Linked DNA regions of Homo sapiens. The protein of the gene in region 1 purifies or fractionates together with the protein of each later gene. This does not show direct contact. Each region holds a gene or a part of one and is shown in the gene's direction. Other genes may lie near its edges.

Evidence for each region.
Region 2: the proteins of DDX46 (region 1) and SRSF11 fractionate together in Homo sapiens (co-fractionation; 2 studies listed by BioGRID). This does not show direct contact.

Annotation. Positions count from the first base shown.
Region 1 is NC_000005.10:134,758,261-134,771,204, forward strand, and holds the start of DDX46 (probable ATP-dependent RNA helicase DDX46), read left to right. Parts: upstream 1-518; 5' UTR 519-678; coding exon 679-695; intron 696-5,643; coding exon 5,644-5,832; intron 5,833-8,656; coding exon 8,657-8,800; intron 8,801-12,642; coding exon 12,643-12,739; intron 12,740-12,944. UniProt on the Homo sapiens protein: Component of the 17S U2 SnRNP complex of the spliceosome, a large ribonucleoprotein complex that removes introns from transcribed pre-mRNAs.
Region 2 is NC_000001.11:70,235,338-70,248,281, forward strand, and holds part of SRSF11 (serine/arginine-rich splicing factor 11), read left to right. Parts: intron 1-163; coding exon 164-213; intron 214-2,087; coding exon 2,088-2,215; intron 2,216-4,101; coding exon 4,102-4,183; intron 4,184-9,346; coding exon 9,347-9,478; intron 9,479-11,480; coding exon 11,481-11,570; intron 11,571-11,779; coding exon of another isoform or gene 11,780-11,795; exon of another isoform or gene 11,796-11,812; intron 11,813-12,944. UniProt on the Homo sapiens protein: May function in pre-mRNA splicing.

The DNA of each region.
Region 1 (12,944 bases):
TCTTTGCAGAGACGAGGGCTACGTTGCCCAGGTCTTGAATTCCTGGGCTCAATAGATCCTCCCGCCTCAGCCTCCCAAAGTGCTGGGATTTCAGGCGTGAGCCACTGTGCTGGCTTTAGTCATCTGTTTCCCGGATAGACTGTGAGCTCCCCAGGATCTAGCACAAGCCTGGCATATGACAACATAAATAAATGAGTGAATGTATACATGAATAAAGAGCGTGTACGGAGAAAGTTGCCGCATTATTTAGCGCAAATTAAGGCAGACATCAGCCTGCCCAGGACGCCTCTTTGGCTCTGGCGCGAAACACCCTCACGGGCCGGCGAGGCTGACGCGCTGCGCTCCATCGCACTAATCAGCCGGGCGTGGTGCGGGCGCCGGGAAGACTGGGCGGGGCGAAGGCATCACCTTTCGATGGGGCCGGCGCTGTGCGTCCTCCAGTCGAGGTGGGGCGCTGTGGAAGAGCGGCAGCTTCCGGTCGGCTTTTCTCTTCCTTCGGCTGCCGGCGCCAGCACGTCCTGTTTTCGTTGGCCGCGCTGGGATGGCCGCCACAGCTGTAGGTGCTGCTAGTGTTTAGCGCTGGTCTTTGCCGGGCGTTGAGGGCAGCTCAGCCTCCTTGTTTGTCCGGTTCGCCTGTGCGTGGTACTCAAGGGCACCAGTATTCCCGCGGTCGGCAGCATGGGTCGGGAGTCACGGTGAGGCAGAGCGCCGAGCGGGCTAGCGGGCGAGCGGCTTCTTGGGGTCGTGAGAAGAGGCGGGAGTTGAGGTGGCCGCCGGGCCAGGCCTGGCGCGGCCCCACGTGCGGTCAGCGCTGCCCCGCGAGCATTGGAAGGGCTGGGGGACCTCGGCTGAGGGAATGGTTGTGTTTGGGCCAGCGACGGCTTCCCCTGCACTACCATCAGAGGGTTCGAGCCCCTGGAGCGGGAACAACCCTCCAGGACGTTAGTGATTGGGCACCACATCCCGCCACTTCAAGGGAGCCTGCCCTGATTACTTCAGTCAGAAGTGATCCCAGTTGGATTGCTTATTGCTTCGCGTTTCCAACATTTCCTCGACTCCTGTCATTCTGTATTTTAGTTCTTTGTGCGCGTATGATCTTTTCCCAAGTTACTTGAAAGGAGCGTGTGGGCAGACATTTTTACCGCATCGACAGCACTATACACGACTAGGCTTTTACTGGGCTACAATAAATACTTGTTGCGTGGGCATTTACTTCGCAAATAGATTTCGTATTTAAGCAGGTAACTTTGTTACCTGCTTTTCTGTCCTTTTGAAGTTGTGGACTATGAGCTCTTATTAGAACTCATTAGATCTCATCACAACTTTAGATTGTTGATAGATTGTTAGGAACCTTGAGATTTTTATGTTAAAAATGACTATTTGCTATGTATTTAGCAATGACTGAAAGATATTTTATGTCTAGGAACAATGAAGGCTTTTGTTGTTAGTGCTAACAGTTCTTTGTTGAGGTACAATTAACAATCAGGGAAATGGACAAAACGTAAGGGTAAAGCTTGATGAAATTTAGCAAATATATAAACCGTGTAATCATCACCTGGATGAAGATAAAAAATATTTCTTTAACTACAGAAAATTCCTGTGACGGTGTTTTAAATCTCCGGAAGGCTGTCCAGACCAGAAATCTGAAAGTGATATTTATTTGACTCATTCTTCTCTCTCACTACCCACAGCCTGTTAGATTCTACATCCTTTGCCCATTCTGGTTGTCCCTGACTTAATTGAGGCCCTAATTATTTATTGTCCAGACTACTACATCTGTTTTAAATTGATTCTCTGAATTGATTGTCTTCCTCTGTTGCTCTCCTAATTGTTAGATCCCTTACACTACAGCCAGAGTGACACTTCTGAAGTAGAGATAAGATGATGGCATGCCCCTGACTTAGTCTCCATTGGTTTCTACTGCTTCCAAGATGAAATTTAAACTCTATGACAGCCTTCAAGGCCCTTCACAAGAAGGTCCATTCTAGCCCGTCAGCCTTCTCCTTTACCTCTCTGGTGTGCATGGCCTGTGCTCTAGGTTTGTTCAGGGAATCATGAAAGGCTTAGAGGTGGGAAGGCGCAAGGTGTTAGAGAAATAGCTAAAAAGCCCAATTTTTCTGCATATGTAGGTTTCATGAAGGGATTTTATCTTTTTTGAGAAGTAGTAGGAGGTAGGTCCTGAATAGGACTTGGGCCCAGAAAGCGGGTGGATTGTAGATTTTGAAGATCAGAATTTGTTTGTGAACCTTTGAAGATTTTGAGTAAAAAGTGTGTAATAGAATCAGAATTCTCCTTAGCAGCAATGAGTAAGATTTAATGGAAAAGTAATAGAAACAGGAAGACTACAGTCTTTAAGAATCTCCTAGGTAGATATGTCTGATATAGAATAGTGACGGTTGGAACTCTGTGGAGGTGATATAATGTGAAGGGAATTACAGAGGTGAAATTGGTATTACTTGGTTGTTTTTTTGTTTTTGTTTTTGTTTTTGAGACAGAGTCTCGCTCTTTCGCCAGGCTGGAGTGCAGTGGTGGGATCTCGGCTCACTGCAAGCTCCGCCTCCAGGGTTCACGCCATTCTCCTGCCTCAGCCTCCCGAGTAGCTGGAACTACAGGCGCCTGCCACCGCGTCAGGCTAATTTTTGTATTTTTTAGTAGAGACGGGGTTTCACCGTGTTAGCCAGGGTGGTCTCGATCTCCTGACCTTGTGATCCACCCGCCTCGGCCTCCCAAAGTTCTGGGATTACAGGCGTGAGCCACCGCACCCGGCCTGTTTTTTTGTTTTTGAGACAGGGACTTGCTCTGTCTCCCAGGCTGGAGTGCATTGAAACAATCTTGGCTCACTGCAACCTATGCTTCCCAGGTTCAAGAGATCCTCCCACCTCAGCCTCCCGAATAGCTGGGACTGCAAGCGTGTGCCACCACGCTTTGCTAATTTTTGTATTTTTTGTAGAGACAGGGTTTCACCATGTTGCCCAGGCTGGTCTCAACTCCTGAGGTCAAGCTCTCTGCCCACCTTGGCCTGCCAAAATGCTGGGATTACAGGCATGAGCCGCTGTGCCCAGCCAATTGGTGTTTTATTTATTGTATCGAATGAGAGCAAGAGAAAAATATTGATGATGACTAATGTTTTGAGCCTAGTGACCGGAAGTTGGTACGATTAATCGTTTGGGGAGGGAAGGGTAACAAGTTTGGGTTTCTACAGATTGAACTTGAGGTGCTTGAGAGATAATCAGGTGCATTCATCTCCTAGTGATCTTATTTAGGTTTATAGCTTTAAATAGCCTTTGTACACTAATAGCTGTCCAGTTTATATTTCTAGAGAAACCTCTTCCTTGAACTACAGGCTAATATTTCAACTATATACTATATATCTCCACTTGGATACCTAATATTCTGATCCACCTTCTCCCTGGATTTCTCCCTCAGCCTTCCCATCTTGGTAAATGGCAACTGAGTGATTTCTCTCTTGCTGTCACACTTGACATTTAGTTCATCATTAAATCCCATCGGTGCTAGCTTCAAGATATCCAGATTTTGATATTTCTCAAAATCTTTCCACCTTCCATTTTGATCTATGCCACCACTATCTCATGCCTGGATGATTGCTATAGTGCTGGTCTTTGCTAATCCTGCCTATTCTTTCTCCTTTTGTCCTTGCCTCCCTTTGTTTGGTTTGTTCTCTCAGCAACCAGAATAATACTTTAAAAACATTAGGCCAGGTGCAGTGGCTCACACCTGTAATCCCAGCATTTTGGGATTACATTAAGTGGAAGGATTGCTTGAGCCCAGGAGTTTGAGACCATCCTGAGCAACATAGCAAGACTCCATCTCTACAAAAATGAAAAATAAAAAGAAATAAATAGGTGGGCATAGTGGCACACGCTTTTATGCTTTTGGTCCCAGCTACTTGGGAGGCTGAGGTGGGAAGATGCTTGAGGCCGGGAGGTTAAGACAATCCTGAGCAACATAGTGAGACACCATCTCTACCCAAAAAAAAAAAAAAAAAAAATTGGTGGGCGCGGTGGTGTGTGCCTTTGGTCTCAGCTACTCTGGAGATTGAGGTGGAAGGATTGCTGGGGCCCAGTAGGTTGAGGTTACAGTGAGTAGCAATTGAGCTGCTGCATTCCAGCCTGGGTGACAGAGTGAGACCTTGTCTCAAAAAAGAAATTTAAAAAAATGATAAAAAGGCTGCATGCGGTGGCTCATGCCTGTAATCCATCCCAGCACTTTGGGAGGCTGAGGCAGGTAGATCACCTGAGGTCAGGAGTTCCAGACCAGCCTGACCAATGTGGTGAAACTGCCTCATCTACTAAAGATACGAAACTGGCTGGGCGTGGTAGTATAGGCCTGTAATCCCAGCTGCTTGGGAGGCTGAGGTAGGAGGATTGCTTGAACCTGGGAGGCAGAGGTTGCAGTGAGCTGAGATGGTGCTATTGCATTCCAGCCTGGGCAACAAGAGTGCGACTCTGTCTCAAAAAAAATAAATAAAATAAAATAAAAATAATTAGCTGAGTGGCCGGGCGCAGTGGCCCAAGCCTGTAATCCCAGCACTTTGGGAGGCTGAGGCAGGTGGATCACGAGGTCAGGAGATCGAGACCATCCTGGCTAACATGGTGAAACCCCATCTCTTCTAAAAATGCAAAAAAAATTTAGCCTGGCGTAATGGCGGACGCCTATAGTCCTAGCTACTCGGGAGGCTGAGGCAGGAGAATGGTGTGAACCCGGGAGGTGGAGCTTGCAGTGAGCTGAGATTGTGCCACTGCACTCCAGCCTAGGCAACAGAGCCAGACTCTTTCTCAAAAAAAAAAAATAATAATAATAATTAGCTAAGTGTGGTGACGCATGCCTGAAGTTCCGGCTTCTTGGGAGGCTGAAGTGGGAGGATTGCTTGAGCCTCAGAGAGTTGAAGTTGCAGTGAACTGTGAGCACATCACTGCACTCTATCCTGGATAATAGAGTGAGGCCTGTTTCTAAAAATAAAAATAAAAACATTAATGAGGTTGTGTCACTCCTCTGCTTAAAGTCTTCCAGTAGATTTTCATCTTGGTGTAAAAGACAGAGTCCTTATATAATGGCCAGTAAGGCCTTCCAGGTTTGGCTTCCCTGCTGTTTTTCTGACCTCGTCTTATGGCACGCTGTGTCACTCTTTCAACACTAGCCACAACTGGCATCCTTGCTGTTCCTTAAACTCACCAGTCAAGCTTCCTCTTTAGGGACTTTGCACTTGTGCCTTTTGCGTGGAAAATTCCCTGTATATCTACATGGCTCCTTTATTTCCTCCAAGCCTCTGTAACAAATGTCATATTTATATTGTATATAAACATACTATATACAGTGTTTGTTTCTTCACTTGTCTGCCGTCTTTTCCTTTACCGGAGTGTAAGCTGCCTGGAGCTCAAAGGCAGGAGCTTGGTCTGTTTTGTTCACTGTCCTTGCCTCTCTTTCAAGACAGATTTTCCACCTCTACATGTGTCTGTGCTGAAGCAGAAGGGTTCATTTTTTCCCTCCTAATTTTAGAAAAATTCATAAAAAGTTCTTTGAGTGTTAAATTTGTCTGCTGAAATTATTTTTAGAAAAAATGTAATAAAATGTAATAGAAGCTAATGGTGTTTGCTGAACTTAATCTTTGACTTATTGTTCTAGCCACTATCGAAAACGATCGGCATCCCGGGGTCGCTCTGGAAGTCGGTCTAGAAGTCGCTCACCCTCAGACAAAAGAAGTAAACGTGGAGATGACAGACGGTCTAGAAGTAGAGATAGAGATAGGAGGAGAGAGAGGTCTCGTAGCAGGGATAAAAGAAGATCTCGGTCAAGGGACAGGAAGCGTCTGAGGTAAGACATTAATTAATTTCCAAAAGACGAGTGATAAATTGGGCCTTCTCGGCTATAGCAGGCTTCTTGAAAAGTATGTTTTCAACTGGAGTTTGGTGGCCCAATTGCAGGCCCTTTTCTTTATCCCCTACTTGTTTGATTAGACCCAGAAGGATGTGCCTACAAAGACTCTATCAAACAGTGTTTTTTTTTTTTTTTAATCTTTTTTGAGACAGAGCCTCACTCTGTTGCTCAGACTGGAGTGCAGTGGTATCATCTCTGCTCACTGCAACCTCCACCTCCTGGGTTCAAGCGATTCTCATGCCTAAGCCTGCCAAGTAGCTGGGATTTCAGATGTGCACCACCACACCTGTCTAATTTTTGTGTCTTTAAAAGAGACGGTGTTTTGCCATGTTGGCCAGGCTGCTCTCGATCTCCTGGCCTCATGTGATCCTCCCACCTTGGCCTCCCAAAGTGCTGGGATTACATGTGTGAGCCACCGTGTCCGACCATCAAACAGTGTTTTTAGTTTGGAAACTTTAGGCTGTATTTCCTGTAACCCAAAGACATCCCTTGAAGCCCTCTGAGGGACATACAAAATGAAGTAAAAAGTAAAGTAATAAGTTATATTCAAGAGGGTTCTATTCCAATTCTGCTCCAGGAGAGCTGACCAAGGTGTTAATTTTCTTTCCTTTTTTTTTTGCCACCCTTGTTGAAATTTGTAAAATTTCCTTCCTCTCTCCCTCCTTCCCTCCCTCCCTTCCTCCATCTCTCTCTTCCTTCCTCCCTATCTCCTTCCCTTCCACTCTCTCTCCCTTCCTCCCTCACTCTTTCTCTCTTTCTCTTTCTTTCTTCATTTTGCTAAACAGTGTGTTTAGAGCAGCCTCTAAAGCAGGCAGAAAAAGGAAACAAAGCAGACCCTCTCCAAGCCTCTTAAACTATTTTAATGAGCTGTCATAGATTTAAACTAAAGAGCGCCTTAATCTTTTTTTTTTTTTTAATTTATTTTTTTTTTGAGACAGAGTCTCACTCTGTCACCCAGGCTGGAGTGCAGTGGCACGATCTAGGCTCACTGGAACCTCTGCCTCCCGGGTTCAAGTGATTCTCATGCCTCAGCCTCTTGAGTAACTGGGATTACAGGCATGCTCCACAAAGCCTGGATAATTTTTGTATTTTTAATAGTGACAAAGTTGGCCAGGTATGGTGGCTCATGCCTGTAATCCCAGCACTTTGGGAGGCCAAGGTGGGTGAATCACGAGGTCAGGAGTTTGAGACCAGCCTGGCCAACATGGTGAAACCCCGTCTCTACTAAAAAAAAAAAAAAAAAAAAAATTAGCCAGGTGTGGTGGTGCATGCCTGTAAACCCAGCTGCTCGGGAAGCTGAGGCAGGAGACTTGCTTGAACCTGGGAGGTGGAGGTTGTAGTGAGCCGACATGGTGCCACTGTACTCCAGCCTGGGCGACAGATCAGGACTCCATCTCAAAACAGAAAAAAAGAAAATAATCTTCTGTGCACACCACACCCAGCCAATTAAAAAAAGCTTTTCATAGAGATGGGGGTCTTAACTGTGTTGCTAGTGGCCTCCCAAAGGGTTGGGACTACAGGTATGAGATACCATACCTTGCCCAGTTTCTCATTAAAATAGGAAAGGAAGACAAGATTGTGTTGTGAGTGGATCATAGAAAGAATTTAACTTTATCCTTTTCAGACATTGGAGTACATTGTTGTTACGTAGGATTCAGGGAAAATATTCACCCGTGACAATGTGGATAGCATTTTCACATTTTGTGGTCCTAGGAACAATTTCACACAATTAATTCAAGTACTTAAGTGAAAATGGTTATTTAACATTTGGTCTTTGACTTTTGGGTGTGAAAGTAGAATCACAAGATTTTAGAGCAAGAGGGATTTTAAAGATGTCTAGTGAAGTCTCCATATTTTATAGATGATGAAACTGAGACCCAGAAAGTTGGAGATCTGACCTTCATCATGTCATTAGTTACCAGGAGTAGCAGGATAGAAATTCTTGCCTCTTCATCTTCAGATTAGTGATCTTTTAGTAGACCCATTATGCCCATCCTTATACTTAGGTTTAGGCTATCTGAAACTAGATATTCTATCTTAGACCATCGATTTTCAATCGATGTTAATTACAGACTTATTATGGTTTTTTCACAAACATCTTTATGAAATTAGTATTCTCTGGCCTGGCATGGTGGCTCACGCCTGTAATCCCAGCACTTTGGGAGGCTGAGGCAGGCAGATCACCTGCGGTTGGGAGTTCGAGACCAGCCTGACCAACATGGAGAAACCCCATCTGTAAAAATACAAAATTGGCTGGGCATGGTGGTGCATGCCTGTAATCCCAGCTACTCAGGAGGCTGAGGCAAGAGAATCGCTTTAACCCAGGAGATGGAGGTTGTGGTGAGCTGAGATTGCGCCATTGCACTCCAGCCTGGGCAACAAGAGCAAAACTCTGTCTCCAAAAAAAAAAAAAAAATTAGCCGGGCATGGTGATGCACATCTGTAATCCCAGCTGCTGGGGAGGCTGAGGCAGGAGAATCACTTGAACCCAGAAGGCAGAGGTTGCAGTGAGCTGCAATTGTGCCACTGCACTCCAGCCTGGGTGACAGGTGTGAGACTTTGTCTTTAAAAAAATGAAAGAAATAAATTAGTATTCTCATTTTTTTCGTTGAGCACTTATAAGACTTGGCTTTACTTCATTGAGACCTCCACCTTTAATAATGGTAGTGATTAAGATTCTTTCAATGTGGGACAGAATCCCCTGATCTGAAATAGTAGCTCCATTTGGTCATAGAATAAATGAAAAGTGTCCCCCTTTCAGACGTTCCAGAAGTAGAGAGAGAGACAGAAGCCGAGAGCGAAGAAGATCTCGAAGTAGAGACAGGAGACGCTCAAGGAGTAGAAGCCGGGGCCGGCGATCCCGATCCTCCAGTCCTGGAAATAAAAGCAAGAAAACTGAGAATAGGTAATGTTATCATTGGGCTGCATCTATAGTGCAGACTGGGGACTGCTTCCCTTCTCTGCGCCTTTTTTTTTTTTCCCTGTAAGTTTGTATTTATAGAGAATTAACTGCATTTGGCTCCTACCATGAACTGTTGGCAGTGTTTTATTTTAATTGGCTATAATGTTTATAATTCAACTGGAAAATAATAGATTCTGTCAGTTTTAACATTCAATACATTGTATTCTTACTTAATACATAACTGTCAATCAGAAATGTATTTTATAGACATCTTTGTAGAAACTCTGTCATTTTCTTTTCAGGCAGGGTCTCACTCTGTTGCCCAGGCTGGAGTGAAGTGGCAAGAACATAGCTCACTAACCTTAAACTTGTAGACTCAAGCAATCCTCTCACCTAGGCCTCCAAAAGTCCTGGGATTATATGAAGAGGCAGACATAATATCCCAGCTAATTTTTATGTTTTTAGTGGAGATGGGGTTTTGGCATGTTTGCCAGGCTGGTCTCGAACTCCTGACCTCAAGTGATCTGCCCACCTCGGCTTCCCAAAGTGCTGGGATTACAGGCCTGAGCCACCGCGCCCAGCCAAGACTTGTCTTAAAAGTTAAGAAATTAGGCCAGGCGCGGTGGCTGACGCCTGTAATCCTTGCACTTTGGGAGGCCAAGGTGGGCGGATCACCTGAGGTTGGGAGTTGGCGACCAGCCTGACCATTGTGGATAAACCCCGTCTCTACTAAAAATACAAAATTAGCTGGGCGTGGTGGCGTATGCCTGTAATCCCAGCTACTCTGGAGGCTGAGGCCGGAGAATCGCTTGAACCCAGGAGGCAGAGGTTGCGGTGAGGTGAGATCATGCCGTTGCACTCCAGCCTGGGCAACAAGAGTGAAACTCCTTCTCAAAAAAAAAAAACAAAAAAAAGTTAACAGAAATTAAGACAATGTGCAATTTGTTTAGCAGTGGACAGACAGATTAGTGAACCATGTAAAGAGCCCAGAAAGGCATCCATACACATGGTAATTTGATAGATGACAGAGGTGATGATGTAATAAGTGAAGATTTTTTTTTTTTTTTTAACAGCCAAAGTCTCGTTCTGTTGCCCTGGCTGGAATGCAGTGGTGCAATCTCGGCTCACTGCAACCTTCGCCTCCCGGGTTCAAGTAATTCTCTTGCCTCAGCCTCCCGAGTAGCTGGGACTGCAGGTGTGTGCCAACATGCCCAGCTAATTTTTTGTATTTTTTAGTAGAGATGGGGTTTCACCGTGTTAGCCAGAATGGTCTCGATCTCCTGATCTCGTGATCCACCCGCCTCGGCCTCCCAAAGTGCTGGGATTAAAGGCGTGAGCCACCGTGCCTGGCCAGAAAAATTTTTAAATTGCTCTAGGGATATCTAGTATCCTTTTATGAAATAAGACTGCCTACCTTATTCTGTGTACAAAAAGCAATTCCAAGCAAAGACCAAATTAGATGGCAAAATTCTAAACCTTTTAGAAGTTTGTGCCAGAGAGTATCTTCTTCTTCACCTCTAGGTATCTTACATCAAATCTGGAAGGATTTCTAAACTACTTTAAAAAGCACCAATTATAAAGGAGAAAAAAGGTTGACTAATTTGATTACATTAAAATTAAGAAATTTTATTCATTATGAGATGCCGTAAGTTGGGGTGCGTAAACAAGTTGGGTTTATTCCAAGAATGGCAGGTTATTTTAACATTAAAAAATCATTAGAAGTCTGGGTGAAGTGGCTCACGCCTGTAATCCTAGCACTTTGGGAGGCCGAGGTGGATGGATCACGAGGTCAGGAGTTTGAGACCAGTCTGACCAACATGGTGAAACCTCGTCTTTACTAAAAGTAAAAAATTAGTCAGGTGTGGTGGCACACACCTGTGATCCCAGCTACTCGGGAGGCTGAGGCAGGAGAATCACTTGAAGCCGGGAGGTGGAGGTTGCAGTGAGCCGAGATTGCGCCACTGCACTCCAGCCTGGCCGACAGAGAGAGACTCCGTCTCAAAAAAATCCCCTAAAATCATTAGAACATTAGAACATTCGAAATGCATGTCCCTTGGGATTTTAAACGTTATTACATATATAAATTATCTTGCAGAATATTAATATATTGGTCTGTTTCTTCATTTATCACATTTTAACTATCCTACCTATAAACAAACTATATTGTTTGTATGTAGTATGTTCAGTTTTTCTTGGGTTGAATTTCCAAATATTTAGTAATGCTTCCCATTAGTGTCATGGGATTAATTTTTTTCGTTATATTTTCAAGGTTTTTTTTTTTTTTTTTTTTTTGAGGCAGAATCTTGCTCTGTCGTCAGGCTGGAATGTAGTTGTGCAATATCAGCTCATTGCAACCTCTGACTCCCTGGTTCAGGCTATTCTCCTGCCTCAGCCTCCTGAATAGCTGAGATTACAGGCACGTGCCACCATACCCAGCTGATTTTTGTATTTTTTAGTAGAGACGGGGTTTGTTTTTTTTGTTTGTTTTTTTTTTTTTTTTGAGGTGAAGTTTTGCTCTTGTCTCCCAGGCTGGTGGGCAATGGTGCAATCTCGGCTCACTGCAACCTCCGCCTCCCGAGTTCAAGTGATTCTCCTGCCTCGGCCTCCCACCCCTGAGTAGCTGGGATTACAGGCGCCTGCCACCAAGCCCGGCTAATTTTTGTACTTTTAGTAGAGACAGGGTTTCACCATGTTGGTCAGGCTGGTCTAGAACTCCTAACCTCATGTGATCCACCTGCCTCGGCCTCACAGAGTGCTGGGATTACAGGCGTGAGCCACCGCGCCCGGCCGAGTTGGGGTTTCACCATATTGGCCAGGATGGTCTCGATCTCCTGACCTCGTGATCTGCCTGCCTTGGCCTCTCAAAGTGCTGAGATTAGAGGCATGAGCCACCATGCCCAGCCTCCAGGTGTTTGTTAATGGAATATGAAAACACAGTTGACTCTTAGAAGTTTATTTCTTACCTAAATATTGGAATACAAGTCTAATAAGTGTACTTATGTATTTTTTGTTTTAATTTAATAGAGACGAGGTCTCACTGTATTATCCTGGCTGGTCTCGAACTCCTGGGCTCAAGTGATCTTCCTGCCTTGGCCTCCCAAAATACTGAGCTTACAGGCATGAGCCACTATGCCTGACCAAATTTTTTTTTTTTTTTTTTTTTTTTAAAAAGAGACAGGGTCTCACTTTGTCACCCAAGCTTGAGTGCAGTGATGGGATCATAGCTGACTGCAGCCTCGAACTACTGGGCTCAAGTGATCGTCTTGTTTCTGCCTCCTCAGTAGGTAGGACTGCAGGTGCACACCACCATACCCAGCTAATTCTTAGTATATTTTGGAAAGATTGGATCTTGTTATGTTCCCCTGGCTGATCTCTTTAACTCCTGTTTTCAATTGATCCTCCTGCCTTGGCTTCCCAAAGTGCTGGGTATATAAGTGTGAGGCACCTTACCCCACCTGTAAAAGTATTTTAAGGCCGGGCGAGGTGGCTCATGCCTATAATCCCAGCACATTGAGAGGCTGAGGTGGGCAGATCACCTGAGGTTAGAAGTTCAGGACCAGCCTGGCCAACATGGTGAAAACCTGTCTCTACTAAAAATACAAAAATTATATGAGTGTGGTGGCTGGCACCTGTAATCTCAGCTATTCGGGAGTCTGTGACAGGAGAATCGCTTGAACCCGGGAGGTGGAGGTTGCAGTGAGCTGAGATCGCACCATTTCACTCCACTCCAGTCTGGGCGACAGAGTGAGACACTGTCTCAAAAAAAAAAAAAAAAGTATTTAAAAATGAATGTTTCTAAGTACAAATGAATGACATTTCTCTTGTCTCTTTTATTTTTTTGGTAGATCTAGGTCCAAAGAGAAAACTGATGGTGGGGAAAGTTCTAAAGAGAAGAAAAAAGACAAAGATGACAAGGAGGATGAAAAAGAAAAAGATGCTGGCGTATGTTTATTAACTTAAAAATAATTTTCTTTCTTTCTTTTTGTCTTTCTTTCTTTCTTTTCTTTCTTTCCCTCTTTCTTTCTTTCTTTCTCTTTCTTTCTTTCTTTTCTGTCTGTCTTTCTTTCTGTCTTTCTTTCTGTCTGTCTCTGTTGCCCAGGCTGGAGTGCAGTGGCACATTCTCGGCTCCTGAGTTCAAGCAATTCTC
Region 2 (12,944 bases), on another chromosome or scaffold:
TGTTTTTTGTTTTTGTTTTTTCTTTTTTAATGTGGCTACTAAAAAATTTATGTTTCATGGCATGTAGTCTGCATGGATTTCTGTTGTTCAGTTTTCTGCCTAGAAAATATCGGTCATTTATTGTTTTATGTATTCTCATTATTCTTATGTTTTATTTTTACAGTCTCTTGCTGCAGATCAGTTGCTGAAGCTTATGAGTACTGTTGATCCCAAGTAAGCGTTTTTTCTTTGTTTTCATTGGTGATGTGGTATCTGAATGTCTACAGAATTAGAGTTTTTTTGATAGCTTATAAGAAAGTTATCAAGTTATCTTTTCTCAAGACAAGCAATATGTATTGTTACCTAGAAACAAGGAGAGAAATACAGAAGTAAGTAAGGTCCTCTAAACTATTTTGTTTCAGTGTCATTTGAGTCTTGAATAGTAATTGTAAATGACTTATACCTGGATGATAGCAAAAGAGCTAATAAGGGACAACTTCGTTTGAAGATCAGAGGCTGAGTCCTGAGGATAGTAGGAGTTAGAGGCAAAGCTGAGGGAATCACTATCCCAGAGCAAAGTAGTATTACATATTATATAATTAATAGCCAACATTTTATTTTAGGTGCTTTTGATAAGTGCTCTTCATGCTGTCACAGAAATTGTTTCCGACTTGATGATGTGACAGATTCATCAGTTTTTTTCACTGGTTATTTGTTGGCATAATAAATTTGAACTTTATACCTTTTCCCCTTAACTTGGTGAAAGTCACTATCAGTAAGTGAGAGAGCATGAAAAGGACAGAATCGTTGGACTTCAGTAGTTAGTGGACTTTTTTCTTAGAAATTATCTAAAAATAAAACCAAGCATGTACCCATCACCCAGCTTATAAAATAAAATAATACCAATACAGTTGAAGCTTCCTATATACCCATTATTTATTACATTTCCTGTTCTGCCCACAAATAACTACTAAATTTGTTGTCTATAATTTTTTTTTCTTTCTTCTTTCTTTTTCTTTTTTTTTTTTTTTTTGAGACGAGTCTCACTCTGTTGCCCAACCTGGAGTGCAGTGGCGCAAACTCAGCTCACTGCAACCTCCGCCTCCCAGATTCAAGCAATTCTTTTGCCTTAGCCTCCCAAGTAGCTGGGACTATGGGCACAAGCCACCACATCCGGCTAATTTTTTGTACTTTTAGTAGAGACGGGGTTTCACCGTGTTAGCCAGGATGGCCTCAATCTCCTGACCTCATGATCCACCCGCCAAGGCTTCCCAAAGTGCTGGGCTTACAGGCATGAGCCACCATGCCCGGCCTACAATTTTTTTTTTACATGTGTAAACCTGTAAGGGGCATCTTTAGCCTTTCCACTCAAGACTTCATGTGTAATTTTGGTAGGCCTTTGGCCTCTGCCTCAGTTCCTCCCCACCTACAAAGTAAAAGGTAATGCTCTTCCCCAAAAAATTACTATGTCATAAATTTTTTTTTTTTTTTTTTTTTTTTTTTTTGAGACGAAATCTCACTCTGTCGCCCAGGCTGGAGTGCAGTGGCGCGATGTCTGCCTCCCGGGTTCAAGCAATTCTGCTGTCTCAGCCTCCCGAATAGCTGGGACTACAGGCGCCTGCCACCATGCCTGGCTAGTTTTTTGTATTTTGAGTAGAGATGGGATTTCACCGTGTTAGCCAGTATGATCTCGATCTCCTGACCTCGTGATCCACCTGCCTTGGCCTCCCAAGGGGCTGGGATTACAGGCGTGAGCCACCACACCGGCCCAAAAATTTTTAATTTATATGAATAAAAGTTCTTAGCATCAGCATATTTTCTTGTACTGGCATTTCTAAAAATGTGTTTGTTTATGGAAAGTTAATGGATGTTCAGCAAAATAGGTATTTTTCTAATTCCAGATGACTCTTAGTCATTAAAACAAATACTTGTAAATATTCAAAACAGTGCTATGCTATATGTTGTTTACCAAAGTTATCATGGAGTCCTCCCCTCCCTTTTTTTGAAGGAATATTTTGCTAAAATAATGTTATATACTTAAGTATTTATTTGAAATGCTCGTGTGCATTTTAAAATATTTCAGATCCCATTTCTTGGTTCTGTTTCAGGTTGAATCATGTAGCTGCTGGTCTCGTTTCACCAAGTCTGAAATCGGATACCTCTAGTAAAGAAATAGAGGAAGCTATGAAAAGAGTACGAGAAGCACAGTCCCTAATTTCTGCTGCTATAGAACCAGGTAAACAATGTTTATGCAATTTTGTTGTGTGATTCTTAGCAAAAATGATTTTGACATAAATGTGGAATTGTGTTGAGTGACACCCTAGTCGTTTAAAATGTTGTAAACTCTGATAAAAGATTGTATAGTGGAGTGCCACTCAGACGTATTTGGAGACAATTCTGGTGGTCACAGGAGTACCAACTGCATCTAGAGGGCAAAGGACCAACATGTTGCTAGATATCCTGCAACAAACAGCACAGCCTTCCACAGCAGTGGTTAATCTAGTCCAAAATGTCAGTAGGATTATCTAATACTTGAAACGATATTTTGTTTTTCTTATTATTTATGTTTTTCTAAGTTGGGATAGCCTAATTTTAATTTTTTTCATTGATCAAGAGAACCTAGTGAAAATGCTTCTGTTTAAAATGATATTTCTTTAAAGAAAATTAGTTGTCTTCTTTGCAGATTGTCTTTTTGAGAGTAAATGAATAGATATCATATTATCTGCCCATATATATTTAGATCTATGGCCCTGGATTTTCTTTCTTATAAATATCTTGTTCATTAATAAATGGGAATGTTTTTTAATGTGCCTATTGTTAGGAAAATAATTTTAAAGTATAATAGTGGATAAACTGATACCAAATGCTTTATATGTATTATGTTATTTAACCAGGAAAATGTCAAATAATTAGCCACAGTTACATGGCAAGCAGTAGGAACTTTTAGATAGCACAGCCGGGTGTATGTAAAGTTTATGACACACCGTGTTCTAACTGCTGTTTATATTGAAAATATATGATTAAAGTGACTGAATGTAGTTTCTTTATGAACTGATGTTTTTACCAATATTTTTATGAATTTATTATAATGACATTCACAATAAATTGAACCCTATTAATGAAATGACTTAAATGTAAAAGAAACTCAATCTCACTTTGATGATAGTCAGTGAATGTAGAATACAATGACTTTATTTCTCTTGTTATGTCCCCAGTTAAGGAATTTCTTATGTGTAGTTCTAGATTTCCTTTCTATATTTACACAATTGAAAATTGGTAGGGAAGAGGAGTGATGAGCAGATAATAGGAAGCGAGCTAGCTTACTAAAATCTGATTCTGTCACAGAAGTGGACTAAAATCAGTGAGTGAATCATGACTTTCTGCATTTGGGGGCCAAATATTGAGTCTGTGAAGAATCAAGGAAAGGAAAGGGGACCCCTCATTTAGAACCTTGTCAAGAGTAAATCAGAGCCAGAGAATGAGAAATTTACCCTCTTTATAGACTGCTTTACAGAAAACACTTCACAGCCTCTTAAGTCTGGCAAGTAAAATAGGCAAAGGAACCTTTAGCTAGCTGAGAATTAGAAGTCTAATTTGGATCTACCAAAAGCTTGGATGATTTGCAATTTATAGTATTTCAGTAAGCTTCAAAATCGTGATTATAAAATGGTTACTTGTGACATTCAAGGGTTGTATGTAAAAGCTGAAAACTAAGGTGAAAAATTATTAGAATAACTTCTGAAAGGGAATAATCTTCCTATTTGATGTGTTTTTTTGTTTGCTTGTTTTTGTTTTTGAGGGGTCTCACTCTGTTGCCGAGGCTGGAGTGCAGTGGTGCAATCACAGCTCACTGCACCGTCCATCTCCAGGCTCAAGCAATCCTCCCAGCTCAGCCTCCCCAAGTACCTGGGACCACAGGCACACACCGCCATGCCCAGCTAATTTTTGTATTTTTTGTAGAGATGAGGCCTCACTATATTGCCCAGGCTGGTCTTGAACTCCTGGACTGAAGTGTTGCTCCCACTTCAGCCTCTCATAGTGCTGTGATTACAGGCATGAGCCACTGCGTCTGGCCCCTATTTAATAACTTCTAAATGCAGGTTCCTTTTCTTTTAAATATAGATAAGAAAGAAGAAAAAAGAAGGCATTCAAGATCAAGATCACGTTCTAGGAGGAGGAGGACTCCCTCATCTTCTAGACACAGGTTAGATTGCTTTTTAGTCAATTATACCTTAGACAAAGATAATTTATATATGTCACATCTTTTTTAATTTGCTGTTAATCTGTTATCCTCTGGTTAAAGTGTTTTAGTAACCTCTGCTGTTAGAATGTGTGAATGACTGTTCACACATGTAAAAAGTAAGAAAAGCGACAGACGAAATAGATGATTTATGCTTTAAAACCCCCAAAAATTCAGAGGTGGTAGGAAAGCATTGGAACTAGAGCAACAAAATGAAAAATAATTGATTCATTGAATTATACAAGTTTCCAAATACTGACTTGTATTTGTTATCTAGTGTCAAAAAGTGACATCTGGTAATATCACCTTAGATCAGATCAGTAAAATGCAAGTACTAGGAATCTGGCATGCTCACAACAATGGAGTCATTTTCCAAAATTTAATTTTCTCAGATTTTTATCATTGGCAACAGATTCATCTATTTTCCTTATATAATAGACTTCATTTATTTTTCAAAAAATTGTCTGCCAAATACCCAAGTCTAATTAATCATAGTTTCTAGATTCTCAAAGGTGATAATGAAAAAGCAGTTAGTTCAGCTCATAACTCAACACAGGTGTCTTCCTTAATACAGCCATTATACTTCATAAGCATCAGAAGTGATTTATGCATACTTTCCATTTCATCACACAGAATATTACTCAAGAGACTAGATTTAATTCTGCTACTATATTAATAGTACTGAAGGGGGATTTAATAAAATTAACTTTACTGCTTCATCAAAGACATCTTTATAAAAGTGGCATTATTTTTTTCTTTTACTGCAAGTGCATACAGAAATGCCAGTGAAGAAGATAGTGAGTGACTCCTAGGGCAGTTCAATAGCCCCTACCTTGATTTGTGTTGAAGAGTCAGTATTTTTACCCACTATGGCTTTTGTGACATTGGTGCAAACGTCAACACAGTGGAAAAGGCAATAATTTGTTATTACTTTGAAAATAATTTTGACCTTATGGACCCCATAAAAGGGTCTTAGAGCATCCACAGTTGTGCAAACGACAATATAAAAGCCATTGCTCTAGGTTATTCACCAACTATTTCAGCCATTCTTCGATTTTCTTAATTTCCAAACTCAATCCTAATTGGCCTAGTTGCATCCTAGTTCTTCTAGTCAGAACCCTTTAGGATTGACATTCAGAACTAGGATATTCCAGTTGTGGTTATTTACTTCAGCCAGTTTCAGCTTCACTTTACATACCCCTCCATCACTGGACTTTTTTTTTTTTTTTTTTTTTTGAGACGGAGTCTCACTCTTGTTGCCCAGCCTGGAGTGCAATGGCACGATCTTGGCTCACCACAACTTCCGCCTCCTGAGTTCAAGCAATTCTGCCTCAGCCTCCCGAATAGCTGGGATTACAGGTGTGTGCCACCATGCCTGGCTGATTTTGTATTTTTAGTAGAGACTGGGTTTTTCCATGTTGGTCAGGCTCATCTCAAACCCGCGACCTCAGGTGATCCACCCACCTTGGCCTCCCAAAGTGCTGGGATTACAGGTGTGAGCCACCATGCCCGGCCATTCACCACTTGACTCTTAAACCTTCACTCCTGGCTTCATCTCTTCTGGAACCTAGTTCTGTCAGTTGTCTGCCTTTTCTTAGTGTCCGTTACCCCTTAGTTTTTACCAAGGGTTAGATAAAACCATTTCTCCTATTTATTGTCAGGATTTTTGAAAGAGCAGTGTGACTTGAATCCTAGACTTTGTCACGTCTCTATTAAAAGCACTTATATCATAAAATATCTAAAAAGTCACATTTCTGTCTCAGAGATGATCTTTTCACTCTGTTTTTATCTTTTAATATCATTTTCTTATTTTAAGTCATTTCTTGAAGTATTACAGGGGTTATCCTGTATGCTATGTCTGTTTATTCCCTGTCACCCACCTTATCCCACTGTCTTATTCTTAGAGTTGTCTTTCAGAAACCCAAATACAGATCATGTCACAGATACTGAGAAGTTCCTTATTGCCTTGATAAGGTGATACATAAAACCTTAGAATGGCTTTCAGGGTTCTTTACTATTCCGTCTGGTTTATCTTTTTACACGTGTCATTTGCCACTCCAAAAGTTACAGGACTAATTGCCTCAACATACCATTTTCTTTATGTCTTCATGTTTCTGCTCATGATCCTTTCTGCCTAATGCTTTTCCACATCTTCCATTTCCGCTTTGAGGAACTCCTTTTTCTTTCTTCAAGATACAATGCTTGCAGTCTTAATCTTCCATGACAGTGCTCTCATAGTTTAGTTTAACCTCTGCAATAGGATATACCTCATGATTACTACAATTTATATGTGTTTCCTTTTACCAAACTCTTAGGAAAAAGGAGAGCCTGGGCCGGGTGGGGTGGCTCACGCCTGTAGTCCCAGCACTTGGGGAGGCCGAGGCGGAGGATCACAAGGTCAGGAGATTGAGACCAGCCTGGCCAACATAGTGAAACCCCGTCTCTCCTAAAAACACAAAAATCAGCTGGGTGTGGTGGCGCGCGCAGCTGTAATCCCAGCTACTCAGGAGGCTGAAGCAGGAGAATCGCTTGAACCCCGGAGGCGGGGATTGCAGTGAGCCAGGATGGCGCCACTGCACTCCAGCTTGGTGACAGCGAGACTCCGTCTTAAAAAAAAAAAAAAAAGGGAGAGCCTGTGTCTTTTTCTTTATATTAAATCTTACTGGGACTCTCTCATTTTAATATTAATTACTTTACTATGACCAGTGAAAAGTAGAAGTGAAATATGTCCCTGAATCCAGATACTTGTAATACATCGTAACAGAAATCATTGTTGTGGGTTGTGGTAACCCTCACCACACACACACACCCCCCACACCCCACACCCCCACCAGGCTCAAGCCATCCTCCCACCTCAGCCTCCTGAGCAGCTGGGACTACAGGCATGCACCACCACACCTGGCTAATTTTTGCACCTTTTTTTTTTATGTAGAGACAGGGTTTTGCCATGTTGCCCAGGCTGGTCTCGAACTCCTGAGCTCGAGCTGTTTGCCCACCTCGGCCTCCCAAAGTGCTGGGGTGACAGATACAAGCCACTGAGTCCAGCCCAGTTGTAGTATCAAGCATCACATAGTGTGTTAAATGACCATGACTTTCACAAGCTTTTTGACTTTATTAAAAATATGTTACACTAATCTCTTTTGCTGGTTAAAAGCTCATATGAACTAGTAAGTGTAGAAAAGTGACGGTAGTACATTCCCCTTTGAAAACAACTGTTTAATCTCTTAAGGTTATGATTCTGATATTTTATATGCCTATATTTCATTCAAAGTATATTATTGGTGCCTTTTATTTAAATCAGGCAGTGTAGTAATTGCTCAAGAATACAGTCATGAAAAGACTTACTTCCCATGTCTTTGTGGAGCCTATGGTAGGGTAGTTAAGTAGATAAAAACATCTTAGGATGTGGAGATGTTATTGCAAGGAATTGTTTAGTAAATAGTTTCAAATATGGCTGAAAATAAGAGATTAAAATTAAAGTTAATTGAGTTCAATAACTCAAATAGTTTATTGAGGCATTACTATGGGTTTTGAGGCAGTTGTTTTAGGGAGTTATGGCAACAGAAGCTATATTAGTACATCAGTAAGAGGAAAGAAGGACATCAATATTTAATGTACAGTCCCCTCCGTATATGCAGGGGATTGGTTACAAATCCATCTATACCAGAATCCATGCATACTCAAGTCCTCTGGAATCCACATATAGGAAAACTCAGTCCTGACTATACATGGGTTCCTCATCCTTCAAATACTGTTTTTAATCCACATTTGGTTGGTGGCAAAAAAAAAAAAAAAAAAAAAAAAAAAAAAAAAAAAACACAGTGTGTAGGTGGAACCATGCCGTTAAAGCTCATGTTATTCAAGGGTCACTTGTGTGTGCCTACACTAAGGCACCGAGCTAGACTCTATATACTGCATTTAATCTTTGTCATTATTTGGTGATAGAGGTGTTACTATCCTTGACTGCTGAAGTAACAAGGTCAGAGAGGTTAGATAATACTCTTAAGTTACCTGGCTTATAAATGAGAGTTTAACACAAGTCTTTAAGATGTCCATACTCTTTCTTGTACCTTGAAAAGAAAAGTAGGCAGAAAATTTAGACTATATTTGAAATGTTGCACAGAGAGAAGTTGAATGGTCACTAAAAGTTAAGTGATCAAGACTAAGCAAAGGATTGCAACTTATTTTTAATTTTTAAAATAGAAGAGAATGGGCCGGTTGTGGTGGTTAATGCCTATAATCCCAACTCTGGGAGGCCAAGGTGGGCTGGTGGCTTGAGCCCAGGAGTTCAAGACCATCCTGGGCAACATGGCAAAACCCCATCGCTTAAAAGATAGAGGAGAATGAGTTTTAATGCAGTAGGGAGGATGACAACATCTAAAGGTTAATTGTGCTTCTTAGTCCTGGAAGAGCCAGGTCAGGACACAATGGATGGGGGCTCGGTGCAGGGAGTAGAGAAACAGATATGTCAGGGAAAAATGAGAGTAAAAGAGGCAGTTTATACAAATTGTATATATCTGTAAAAGGTCTGCATTGCCTGGAGTTTCCTAAATTGTGGATTAAAGGAGTGGAATTTGTTTCAGAGAAAAATTCGAAATAGGAGATGGCAACACAATAAGTAGTTTCTCTTTATAAAATAGAAATAATAGTGGCATTTACTTTATGGACTTACGAGACCAATTTGTAGTTTATATATAGCGTGATATAAGTATTTGATTTATGATGAGGAAGGTTTAAGCTGCACTAATGAGGAATCAAATAAGAAATACATGCTAAAATGCTATATAATTGTATAAGATGATGCAAATAAGTCATACTTTTATTCTCCTTCATGATCTAGTAGTATTTTTAACCTTGGAGTTGTAAGTACAGTGGGCATAGAAGGACCTATCTGACAGGTTGAGCAAATCATTAAAAGGTGAGGAATTCCAAGTGTTAAAAGGTATTACTAATTTCTAAGGTGTTGAAGGTGTTTGTTCTATGGGCTAAATAATAGCAAATGGAAGGGAATTATCCCCCATTTAATTGTTTAGTCCATATGTCCGAATCTTTTGTCTGATACTAAGCACAAAATTTATAGTCTTTTTACATTTATACACATGTATTGGCTTCCTTTTACACTATTAGGCGGTCAAGAAGCAGATCGAGACGGCGGTCACATTCTAAGTCTAGGAGTCGGCGACGATCCAAAAGCCCAAGGCGGAGAAGATCTCATTCCAGAGAAAGAGGTAGAAGGTCAAGGAGCACATCAAAAACAAGGTATAGCATTGGGTGAGAAAGCAAATTTTAGGGTTCCCAGTACCCCTAGTACTGTGCTACTTAGTAACAAAAGAGGTGGTTGGGGTGCGGGGCAGAGAAATAGGGCTAGACAGGGGAAGAAACTGTCAATATTTGAGTTTGAGGAGGCTGACGTTTGCTTTCTGGTGCTTCCTTGTAAACTGAAACTTCAGCTTACAGCTGAGGGCCTAAGTAAAATTTCTTAGTAGTAGGAATTGTTAGCTGTCCTGCTACCTTCTTTCATAAGAAATACCGTAACGTTTTATTTCCATCTAAAAATATATTCAAAAACCAGTCTTTTCGTGTAGAACCAAACACTTTTAAATTAGTATGCCCCCAGTCATTTATAGTTGTGAGGCATACAATTTCACAGCACTTAATTTTTTTAGCAACTGCTTTTTATCTCTTGCTAAAATATTTATCTTAATTTTCTAGAAGCAACTCTATATTTGGCATTATTTTGTTCATTTATATATTTAGTTAAATCATGTCATTAAAGTAAGTACAGCTGGGGACACAACATAACTTACTCTTGGGAAGCATAAAACTCAACTGATGAGAACAGAAGAGTGGGGGTAGCTTTACTATCATTGTTAAACCTGTAATAATGGGGCTTTTAGTCCTTATGTGCTGCAGAGTGAATCAAACAAGGTAGATTAATAGAACAGTTATACAAAGGAATTAAGCATTTCTTTAAGGACTTTCTGATTACTAGGAGAAGAGTGATGGATTTAATTACAGGGGAGGAACTGTTAAATGATGATTGCTACTTGCTGATATTGGAAGAGGTTTGAGAATGACTCGAGTATTAAATTCTGAAAGATTTGACTAGACTCAACGGGAGGCATGCTTTCAGGTGGAGAATGGTGTTTCTTGAAATAACAATATTTTGATGTAGTTGGACTAGAAAATGAGGTCAGAAAAATATAATGAGACCGATCGTGGAAGGCTTTGTTGTTCACACTATGCACTTGATCCAGGAGGCAACTGGAATGAGTTGAAAATGGTGAACAGGGAATTAATATTTTCAGGTTTGTACTTTAAAAGATTTCTGACAGAGTACAGAATCAGTTTATGGAAGGCATGACTGGGACCTACTAGGGGACTGTTCTAGTAATCTAGGAGTTAGATGATAAAGATTCAAATGAAGAGGGAACCAATGATAAAGATTGAATGAAGAGGGAACCGAGGATGACCAGAGAAGGGAAAAAAATGAAATTGAGAATGCAGAATGGAAAGATTAGCTTAGAACAGTAAGAGAGGGATACTTTGATTCTTAAAATTAGAGAATAGTTAAAGAGGGGGGTTGTTATGAGACTTCTCATTCAACAAATATATATCGTTTATCTACTCTTTGCTTAGAGTCTTGGGGAGAATGATGATCTTGGGGAAAAAATATTGTGAGGAGTAAAAATTTATAGGAATCTGTAAAAAAAAAAAATTGAGTTACGGCTGTAGTCAAAATCTGTTGATATTTTCTAATAAGCCCTGAATAGTTCATAATAGCCGCAGAAAAAGAAGCTTGCTTGATCCATGATAGAGGTTGACATGGGATGTGTGTCTTGGAAGAATATTCATGATATTGATGGATTTTGGTAGTGCTCTATGGGTTTTGGCCTGATAGGAGAGGTGGGTTGGGAAAGTGGTAATCAGCTGAGAGAAAAAGGAGTCTTGAGGAGCCTAGAGATAGTTAACTTATTGGTGTTTACCAAGTATATTTCAAGCCAACATCCTAGTTATTTTCTCACCCATAGTCTACTTTAGTCTACTTGGGAGAAAACCTAGGATAATAGGATTTTAAAAGAAGTTATTGTACTTCAAATATGCCACATAAAGTATTATTTTTAAAACAGTTTCTGTCAGAACAACATTTATGCTTTTAAGGATGGGATTAGATCTGATTATATTTTTGTGTTTGTAGTGCTATATAAATTGGCATCAGCTGAGTCTTCTAATGCATTCATAAATTGTGTTCATTTGTTAGAGACAAAAAGAAAGAAGACAAAGAAAAGAAACGTTCTAAAACACCACCAAAAAGTTACAGCACAGCCAGACGTTCTAGAAGTGCAAGCAGGTAAGGTGGCATTGTGAATTCTTGGCAATTATTTTTTTAACTTTGCTTCTAACAGTATCAGTACGCTGTCAGTATGAAGTCTTTTCCAGAACATAAGTATTTCAGTGTTGAAAAAAGTTACATTTTGCTGTTATTTAAAGTTTTTAAAAGGCAATTTGTGAAGAATAATGTAGTTTATTTTTCTTTTTACTTAATATTTTATGGTCTAGAGTATATTTGAAGTAACATGGAATTCAAGAGAGGTGAGTTTTTCTCTTTATAGTTTAAGTTTTAATGGCTAAACCATACTGAATTGTTCCATTAAGTAAGCTTATTATAGTAAGCTATATTTATCATCTGCATGTTAGTACTTGAGAATTTTTCTATCCCTTTTAATGACTGTTGAATTAATGGGAAGCAATGCAGGTTCTGGTTTGTGTCATTCTTAGACTAATTCTATCTTTAAGCTGTCAGTGAAAATTGAAATGTTGCAGACCTTACTGCACAAAAAGCACATTTTCATACTTAATTTGGGATTTATATGATAGTAAGGGCTGGACTTCATTCCATTTTTCAGATCTCATTCACATGTTTTGCTGCAGTGCTTGTTTTATTCATCAACATTACTTAAATTCACTAGGAGAAGGTTCATGCCATATAAAAAAAAATAACTGAAATGTATAAAAGACCTAAATGTAAGAGCCAAAACTATAAAACCTTTAGAAAGAAACAAAAGTGAATCTTTAAGACCATGAGCTTGGTGGTTTCCTAGATATGACTTCAAAAGCATAAGCAACAGAAGAAAAGAAAATTTTGGAATTCACCAAAAGTTAAAACATTTGTATTTCAAAGGATACTATCAAGAAAGTAAAAACCTAGAGTGCTAGTTAGAAAATTCTTTATATATTCTCTATTAAGAACTCTTAGAACTCAGCAATAGACAGGCAACCCAATTTAAAAATGGCAAAGAATCTGTAGCCATTACTCCAAAGGAGATATGCAAATATCTAGTAAGTACATAAAATCTGTTCAACATCATTAGTCACCAAGGAAATACAAACCAGACCACAGTGAGATATGTCACAGTCACTAGGATGGTTATAAATCAAAAAGACAGATGATAGCTGAGCCTGACAGATGATAGTAAGTGTTGATTAGGATGTGGAGAAATTAGAACCCTGTGCATTGCTAGTATGAATATAAACTGGTACAGGTGTTTTAGAAAACAGTCTGGCATTTCCTAAAAATGTTAAACATAGAGGTTTTTGACCCACCAGTTGTACCCCTGGGGGAAAATGAAAACATTTTCACAGAAAAACTTTTATGTGAATGTTTGTGGCATTATTTCATAATAGCCAAAAAGTTAACTATCCATTAACAAATGGATAAACAGAA